2 linked regions of the Homo sapiens genome follow. The protein of the gene in region 1 purifies or fractionates together with the protein of each later gene. This does not show direct contact. Each region holds a gene or a part of one and is shown on either strand. Other genes may lie near its edges.

Evidence for each region.
Region 2: the proteins of CORO7 (region 1) and LATS1 purify together in Homo sapiens (affinity purification with western blotting; one study listed by BioGRID). This does not show direct contact.

The regions. Positions count from the first base shown.
Region 1 is NC_000016.10:4,413,788-4,418,345, reverse strand, and holds the start of CORO7 (coronin-7), read left to right. Parts: upstream 1-1,749; 5' UTR 1,750-1,827; coding exon 1,828-1,887; intron 1,888-2,448; exon of another isoform or gene 2,449-2,631; intron 2,632-4,558. Other genes in the region: CORO7-PAM16 protein, read left to right, coding at 1,828-1,887. UniProt on the Homo sapiens protein: F-actin regulator involved in anterograde Golgi to endosome transport: upon ubiquitination via 'Lys-33'-linked ubiquitin chains by the BCR(KLHL20) E3 ubiquitin ligase complex, interacts with EPS15 and localizes to the trans-Golgi network, where it promotes actin polymerization, thereby facilitating post-Golgi trafficking.
Region 2 is NC_000006.12:149,711,368-149,715,176, reverse strand, and holds part of LATS1 (serine/threonine-protein kinase LATS1), read left to right. Parts: intron 1-3,809. UniProt on the Homo sapiens protein: Negative regulator of YAP1 in the Hippo signaling pathway that plays a pivotal role in organ size control and tumor suppression by restricting proliferation and promoting apoptosis.

The sequences.
Region 1 (4,558 bases):
TTTTGAGACAGAGTCTCGCCCTGTCACCCAAGCTGGAGTTCAATGGCACGATCTCGACTCACTGCAACCTCCGCCTCCCGGGTTCAAGCAGTTCTCTGCCTCAGCCTCCCAAGTAGCTGGGATTACAAGCACCCACCACCACGCCCAGCTAATTTTTATATTTTTAGGACAGACAGGGTTTCACCATCTTGGCCAGGCTGGTCTTGAACTCCTGACCTGGTGATCCACCCACCTTGGCCTCCCAAAGTGCTGGGATTACAGGCGTGAGCTACCGCGCCCGGCCAACCTGATGATTTTCTAAAAACCTTTTTGGACTGGGCGCAGTGGCTTATGCCTCTAATCCCAGCACTTTGGGAGGCTGAGGCAGGTGGATCACTTGAGGTCAGGAGTTTGAGACCAGCCTGGCCAACATGGCAAAATCCCATCTCTACTAAAAATACAAAAATTAGGAGTAGTGGCGCACACCTGTAATCCCAGCTGCTTGGGAGGCTGAAGCAGGAGAATCGCTTGAACTCAGGAGGTGGAGGTTGCAGTGAGCTGAGATGACACCACTGCACTCCAGCCTGGGCAACAGAGTGAGACTCTGTCTCAAAACAAACAAACAAAAAGCCTTTTCAATAAACCACAAGTGACTTTGGTTCACAGTAAATACACTTCTGCCCGAACTAAGATAAAATGTAAGCATTGCTTTTCAAACCTTAGAAATGCAAGAATCAGCTGGGTGCGTTGGCTCATTCCTATAATCCCCACACTTTGGCAGGCCAAGTTGGGAGGACTGCTTGAGTCTCGTTCGAGACCAGCCTGACCATCATGGTGAAACCCCGTCTCTTACTAAAAATAAAAAATTAGTTGGGCGCGGTGGCAGGCGCCTGTAATCCCAGCTATTCGGGAGGCTGAGGCAAGAGAATTGCTTGAACCCGCGAGGCAGAGGGTGCAGTGAGCTGAGATCGCGCCACTGCACTCCAGCCTGGGTGACAGGGACTCCGTGTCAAATAAATGAATAAATACTAAAGAAAAATTAAAAGCTATTATTATTATTATTTTTAGAGGCAGGGTCTCTTTCTGTCTCCCAGGCTGGAGTGCAGTGGCACGGTCACAGATAACTGCAGCCTCGACCTCTTGGGCTCAAGGGATACTCCTGCCTCAGTCTCCCAAAGTTCGGGATTACAGACCTGAGCCACCGCGCCTGGCCGGATGCAGAGCGCCTGGCCGGATGCAGAGGCTTTTGAGTAGGCCCGGTGGACAGGGATTTGCTTTAGACCTGGGCCCCTGTTCCCCCTCTGCCTCTTACCACTGGTGTGACCTGGGGACCGACAGTTTACACTCTCCTTTAGCCGGGGGTTTCCTGTCTCTGAAATGGAGCTAATTTCTCCCCTCTCTACAGGAAGAGGTAGATAGTGCTGGAAGGCGTGCTAGGTACACCGCAAAGACTCCACAGCAAATCCTGCACACAAAATCGCGAATGCTGCAGCCGAGACCCCACGCAAGCAAGCACCGCAGGAGACGTGGGCTGACAGCTGCGCCCCACGTGACCTCCCACCCGCGCCAGTCCGTCCCCTCGGTATCAGGGCGTGGCCTCGCGGGGCGGCCGTACCTGGATTGGCCGGGAGGCGGGACCGGTGGTGCGCGCGCGAAAGGAGAGGGGCTTGGGGGCGTGGCCCAGGGGGCCGGAGACGGCTGCGATTGGCAGTGGGGCGCGCCGGGGGCGTGACCGCGGCATTGGGTCCCGGGTGGGGCCGAGGCAGCGGGAGTCGCGGTTGCTCAGCGTGCACCTGAGACCCGACGCCCGGGGTCCTCGAAGACGCGTCCGCCGCCGTGCCCGTCGCCATGAACCGCTTCAGGGTGTCCAAGTTCCGGCACACCGAGGCTCGGCCGCCCCGCCGCGAGGTGAGTCCGGCCCGAGGACCGGGCGCTGTCGCCTCGGGCCCCGTCCGGCTGCCCCTCCCCCTGCCCGGACCCCACAGGGGTGCCCTCCAGGGCCGTCTGGAACCCCGAGACCTCCATCCCCGGGGAACCCCCCTTCAGGCCAGGGCCCCGGCGTCCGGGCCGTTTCGTCGCCGCCGGAGGGCAGAGTCCGGCACTCCCGTGACTCGCTCTGGCGCTCGGTGACCCTGGCGGTCTGCCCGCCTCGCCCACCTCGCCCCGGGACCCCCGAGGCGGCGCAGCCCTCCTAGCCGGGGCCCAGGCCTGCGAGGCCGCCTGCCTTCCCAGCTTCCGGTCGGCCTCGCCGGGAGCCGGGGCTCGGGGCGCTGCCGGCGCCTGGCTCCTCCTCCCTGCCGCCCCGGGTCGCCCCTGCCCCTGGCTGGGCTGTGGGGAGACGCCCCTCTCTCCTCTGGCCCCGGCGAGCCCAAGTGTGTCAGTGGTGGGGAGGGAGCCCCTCGGCCGCACGCGCCCCTCCCTCGGGTTTCCGCCGGTGCTTCCTCCTCTCGCCGCTGGCGCAAGCTCTTTCTTTATCTCGGTGATGCTGCCACGGCTGGGTGGGGCCTGGGGAAGCCTGAGCAGGTGGAGCCCCAAAGAATTGCTGAGCCAGGTGCCGGGAGACCCTTCGGACCCCCGAAACGGCAGGAGGACTGATGAGGGGTGCGCCTTGGAAACGATGTCAGCTCTGCTCTTCCGCTTTCCGTGTTATTTGTAAGGCCTGGGAGTGTCCTCCGATAACTGGGCCTAGGAGTTGACCTCAAGTGACCCCATCAGGGTCCCAGAGCAAGTCAGGGCAGTCTGGGTAGAGGTTCCGTTTTTGTAGTGTGGACTATATTTCCTCTGCTTCCACTTTATGCTGTGCTAAGCTGCTGGAGACATCCCGGTGAACACAACGGCATTTTCCTTCCCCTGTGGCACTTGTAGCCTCATGAGGGAGACAGCAAGCAGACAAACAAGAGCATTGGAGGTTTTCATAACGACATTGAAGAACACACATGAGGGACTGGGATGGAGAATGGAGGGGGCCAGTCTCAGTAGCGTGGTCAGGAAAGGCTGCCTGGAGTAGATGGCATTTTAGCTGAGGCCAGAAGGGTGAGAATTGAGAAAGAGCCTGGTGGAGAAATGGAAAGTGAGCATGAGTGGATGGAGGGGATGGCCGGAGCAGTATGGTGACAGATGAGTCCAGAGTGGTCCTGCAGAACCCAAGGGCCACCGGAAGAAGTTGGGTTTTATTCTGATTGCAGTGCAGAGCCATTGAAAAGTTAGGGGGAGGGGCTGGATACCATGACTCACGGTAATCCCAGTACTTTGGGTGGACTGCTTTGAGCTCAGGAGTTCGAGACCAGCCTGGGCAACATTGCGAAACCCCTCTGAACAACAAGTTAAAGAAAAAAAAATTAGCCAGGTGTGGTGACTCACTCCCGTGGTCCCAGCTACTTGGGAGGCTGAGGTTGGAGGATCTCTTGAGCCGAGGAAGTGGAGGTTGCAGTGAGCCGAGATTGTGCCACTACACACCAGCCTGGGCAATAGAGTGAGACACTGTCTCAAAAAAAGAAAAAAACAAACAAGAAAAGTTAGGAGGAGGTACCTAGGTTTGCATCAAGACAGCCGGTGGCTCTGAGTGCAGTTAAGTACTGCTTGGAGGGGTCTGGAGAATACTTGAGGGGCCCTAATTCTTGCTCCTGGGTGGGCCTTAGTCCAGCAACATAAACAGATAGGCATGGAACTACAGACTGTAGGGAGAGCTTAAAACAGTTTATGTTAGGGAGGCGGGAGAACAGGTGATCTGTTCTTTTCAGAGATATTTGCAGTCACTGTGTTTATACAGTAAACATGAATCAGGAGGGAGAAATAATAGGGTGGGACTGATGCTGTAACCATGGCAGGTGAACACTGATATAGAAACTTCAGGTGGTGGAGGTGGTTTCCGGGGTGCTATGGGTGGGTGGAGTGGGAAACATGGGTGTCCTGTCATCGAGGGCAGGAAGGAGTGCTGAGCGGTGCTTTGACAACAGAGAAAATGTGTGGACCTTGCAGATCTTAGTTTCAGAAACGTGCTCCTCTGCCTCCCCTTGGGTGGGGGTGTTTCTTTTACTGACTTATGAGACTTTGTGGAAAGGTGTGTCCTGATGAGGCCAGGCCTTGGTGGTTCCCCTCTCTGAGCTTGGGTGTTTTTCTCCGGGTACTTGGAGGAGGCCTGGCCACATTTTGCATTTTCTTTTTTTTTTTTTTTTTGAGATGGAGTCTCGCTCTGTTGCCCAGGCAGGAGTGCAGTGGCATGATCTCGGCTCACTGCAACTTCCGCCTCCCAGGTTCAAGTGATTCTCCTCCCTCAGCCTCCTGAGTAGCTGGAATTGTATGTAGGTGCCCGCCACCATGCCTGGATAATTTTTGTATTTTTAGTAGAGATAAGGTTTCACCATGTTGGCCAGGCTGGTTTCGAACTTCTGACCTCAGGATGATCTGTCTGCCTCAGCCTCCCAAAGTGCTGGGATTACAGGCATGAACCACCGCACCTGGCCCACATTTTACATTTCCTAAGGGACTTCGTGAGTGGGGACAGAGTTTGATTTGAAGTAACACAACACGGCTGGGGGCGGAGGCTCATGCCTGTAATCCCAGCACTTTGGGAGACCAA
Region 2 (3,809 bases), on another chromosome or scaffold:
GAATCACTTGAACCCGAGAGACGGAGGTTGCAGTGAGCTGAGATGGCACCACGGCACTCCAGCCTGCGACAGTGAGACTCTGTCTCAAAAATAAATAAAGAAATAAAGAAATAATAAATAAATAAATAAAAAATAGTACATCTACATGATGAAATTCAATATCGGTATTTAAAGGAATAAGGTTGAACTATCATACTTTATCAATTCTGAAATACCACTAAATCTAAGATAAGCCATCTATTTAGTAGCAATTTTTTAGCAGGAAGAAAGTAAACATAAAGCTTTTATTAATAATAGCATACATTTATTCATTCAATTGTATACCATTTTCGTCTGTCACAATAAAGTTTGAGTCTCAGCCTTATTCACATTCAGAATCTAGGATCCTTCTGAATTACTTCGGTTAGTTAATGCAACATCATGATAACAGGCTGCTTTTCATAATGCTAGTTAATTATCTTAACCTATATTGTCTTTATGATTGTGTGTATAATTTTAAGGTATATTGAAGAATACTGGGGTTTTGCTTGCCTTTCATTTTTGCTTACTTAGTTTTTTTTTCTTCTTCTTAATTGAATTACCTATTGCTGGAAATTAAACAGCTTCTTCTGAAGATAACTCCAAAAGTTTTGGCAGACTTTTGAGTCTGTCTTACCTTTGAAAATTCTGTGATCTTGCTTGAATTTAATAATTACTTATGCCTTTAATTGCATTGTCTATTGAATGACAGTTTGAGTGCACAATACTATGTCACAATGGAATCTTTCAGAACATTTTGTGGACCAGGCATGGTATCATCCCAGTATTTTGGGAGGCTGAGGCAGGAGGAACACTTGAATTCAGGAGTTTGAGACCAGCCTGGGCAACCTAGCAAGATCTCCATCTGTATTTACAAAAATAATAATAGCTGGGCGTGGTAGCTCATGCTTGTAATCCCAGCACTTTGGGAGGCTGAGGTGTGTGGATCACATGAGGTCAGGAGTTCAAGACCAACCTGGCCAACGTGGCAAACCCCTGTCTCTACTAAAAATACAAAAATTAGCCAGGTGTGGTGGTGGGTACCTGTAGTCCCAGCTACTCCGGAGGCTGAGGCATGAGAATCACTTGAACTTGGAAAGCAGAGGTTGCAGTGAGCCAGAATACGACACTGCACTCCAGCCTGAGTGAGACAGTCTCACAAAAAAAAAAAAGTAATAATGATAAAAGAAAAAAAGAGGCCGTGCGCAGTGGTTCATGCCTATATAATCCCAGCACTTCGGGAGGCCGAGGCAGGTGGATCACCTGAGGTTAGGAGTTCAAGACCACCCTGGCCAACATGGTGAAACCCCATCTCTACTAAAAATACAAAAATTAGCCACACATGGTGGCACATGCCTGTAATTCCAGCTACTTGGGAGGCTGAGGCAGGAGAATTGCTTGAACCCGGGAGGCAGAGGTTGCAGTCAGCTGAGATCACGCCATTGCACTCCAACCTGGGCAACAAGAGAGAAACTCCTTCTCAAAAAAACAAAAACAAAACAGAAAAAAAGAAAAAACATTTTGAGCATCATATATGGTGCTGCCAATGAAAATATTACAATTGTCCGGGTATGGTGGCTCACACCTGTAATCGCAGCACTTTGAGAGGCCAAGGCGGGTGGATCACCCGAGGTCAGGCATTCGAGACCAGCCTAGGCAACATGGAGAAACCCCGTCTCTACTAAAAATACAAAAAATTAGCCGGGTGTGGTGGTGGGCTCCTGTAATCCCAGCTACTTGGGAGGCTGAGGCAGAAGAATTGCTTGAACCCGGGAGGCAGAGGTTGCAGTGAGCCGAGATGGCACCATTGCACTCCAGCCTGGGCAACAGAGGGAGACTCTGTCTCAAAAAAAAAAAAAGAAAATAATACAATTGAGGTAACAGAGATTTCGACTTTTATGTATGGTTAAGTTAGGCATGTGCAATGACTGCTACTCTAGAACTTCTCTGCTTTGGAGGGGAGATTGGACCTTGATTTATTTGGAAGGAACTCTCATCCATTGTTTTCATTATCATACTCGGCCACCTGTGAAGTGTGTGTTGGGTGAGTATTCTCTCTTTGGAAGGTACACATCTTTCTCAGCTAGCTTATTGCTCATAGAAGTTGGGGGCCCAAGGGTTGATCTTAAGATATACTCAATTTATTTATTTATTTATTTTTTCTGGGACAGAGTTTTGCTCTGATGCCCGGGCTGGAGTGTAGTGGCACAATCACAGCTCACTGCAGCCTCGACCTCCTGGGCTCAATTGATCCACCCACCTCAGTCTCTCCAGTAGCTGGGACTGCAGGTGCACACCAACATAATTGGCTGATTTTTTCTATTTTTTGTAGAGTTAGGGTCTCACTTTGTTTCCCAGGCTAGTCTCAAACACCTGGGCTCAAGAGATCCGCCCACCTCAGCCTCCAAAAGTTTTGGAATTACAGGCATGAGCCACTGCACCCGGCCCTAACTTTTAGAAATATTAAAATGTAGAAAAGCATGCTTAGAATCAAACAAACATGATACTGGCCGGGCATGGTGGCTCACACCTGTAATCCCAGCACTTTGGGAGGCTAAGGTGGGAGGATCGCTTGAGGCCAGGAGTTTGAGACCAGCCTCGTCAACATAGCGAGACCCTCATCTCTATTCAAAAAGAAAAGAGAGAATAGAAGATAAAATATGGCTGGGCGCAGTGGCTCACACCTGTAATCCCAGCACTTTGGGAGGCCAAGGTGGGCGGTCACCTGAGGTCGGGAGTTCGAGACCAGCCTGACCAACATGGAGAAACTCCGTCTCTACTAAAAATAGAAAATTAACCGGGTGTGGTGGCACATGGCCTGTAATCCCAGCTGCTTGGGAGGCTGAGGCAGGAGAATTGCTTGAACCCGGGAGGTGGAGGTTGCGGTGAGCCAAGATCGCGCCATTGCACTCCAGCCTGGGCAACGAGCGAAACTCCATCTATAAATAAATAAATAAATAAATAAAAGAAACATGACACCTAACTGTGGAAAGATGTTCACGGTATTATGTTATTCTTTTGCTAAGAAATTGGGCCCTGATTAGTGACAGAGGCAAGATTCATGGGTCCTATTATCCACATGCCCAATAATCTCTTAATCAGGTCCAGATATGGTTCCTCTTGGTCCAGGGACCTGTGAAGTAATGTGTCCTGTGTGCTGCGTGTGTGCGCACTCTCTCTCTCTCTGTCACTCACTGTGTCTCCTCTCTATCTCCCTTCCTTTTCTTTTCCCCTTACTCACTCACCGCAGTACACAAGGGCCACAGTAAGCGCTCTTCCTAGAAAAAGAGAATAATGGGAGATAAGCAGCAAATGCTGATCTATAATCTGAAATCTCCTAGGCAGATTCTGTGTAAGCAACCGGGCCTGGAGGTAGGGGAGATTGGACCCTGATTTATTTGGAAGGAACTCTCCCATCCATTGTTTTAATGATCATCCTTGACCACCTGTGAAGTGTGTGTTGTACCTTCCCTTTGGAACGTACAAATCTTTTTCAACTAGCTTCTTGCTCATAGAAGTCGGGGACCCAAGGGTTTTAAATTTTGAATAGACAAGAAGATTTTTTTAGTATGAACTTGAGATGATTTAAGAAAAAAAAATTTCATTTTGTTTTTTGAGATGGAGTCTCACCCTGTCACCCAGGCTAGAGTGCAGTGGCACAATCTCCGCTCACTGCAACCTCCGCCTCCCAGGTTCAAGCAATTCTTCTGCCTCAGCCTCCTGAGTAGCTGGGACTACAGGCACATGCCACCACGCCCAGCTAATTTTTGTATTTTTTAGTAGAGATGAGG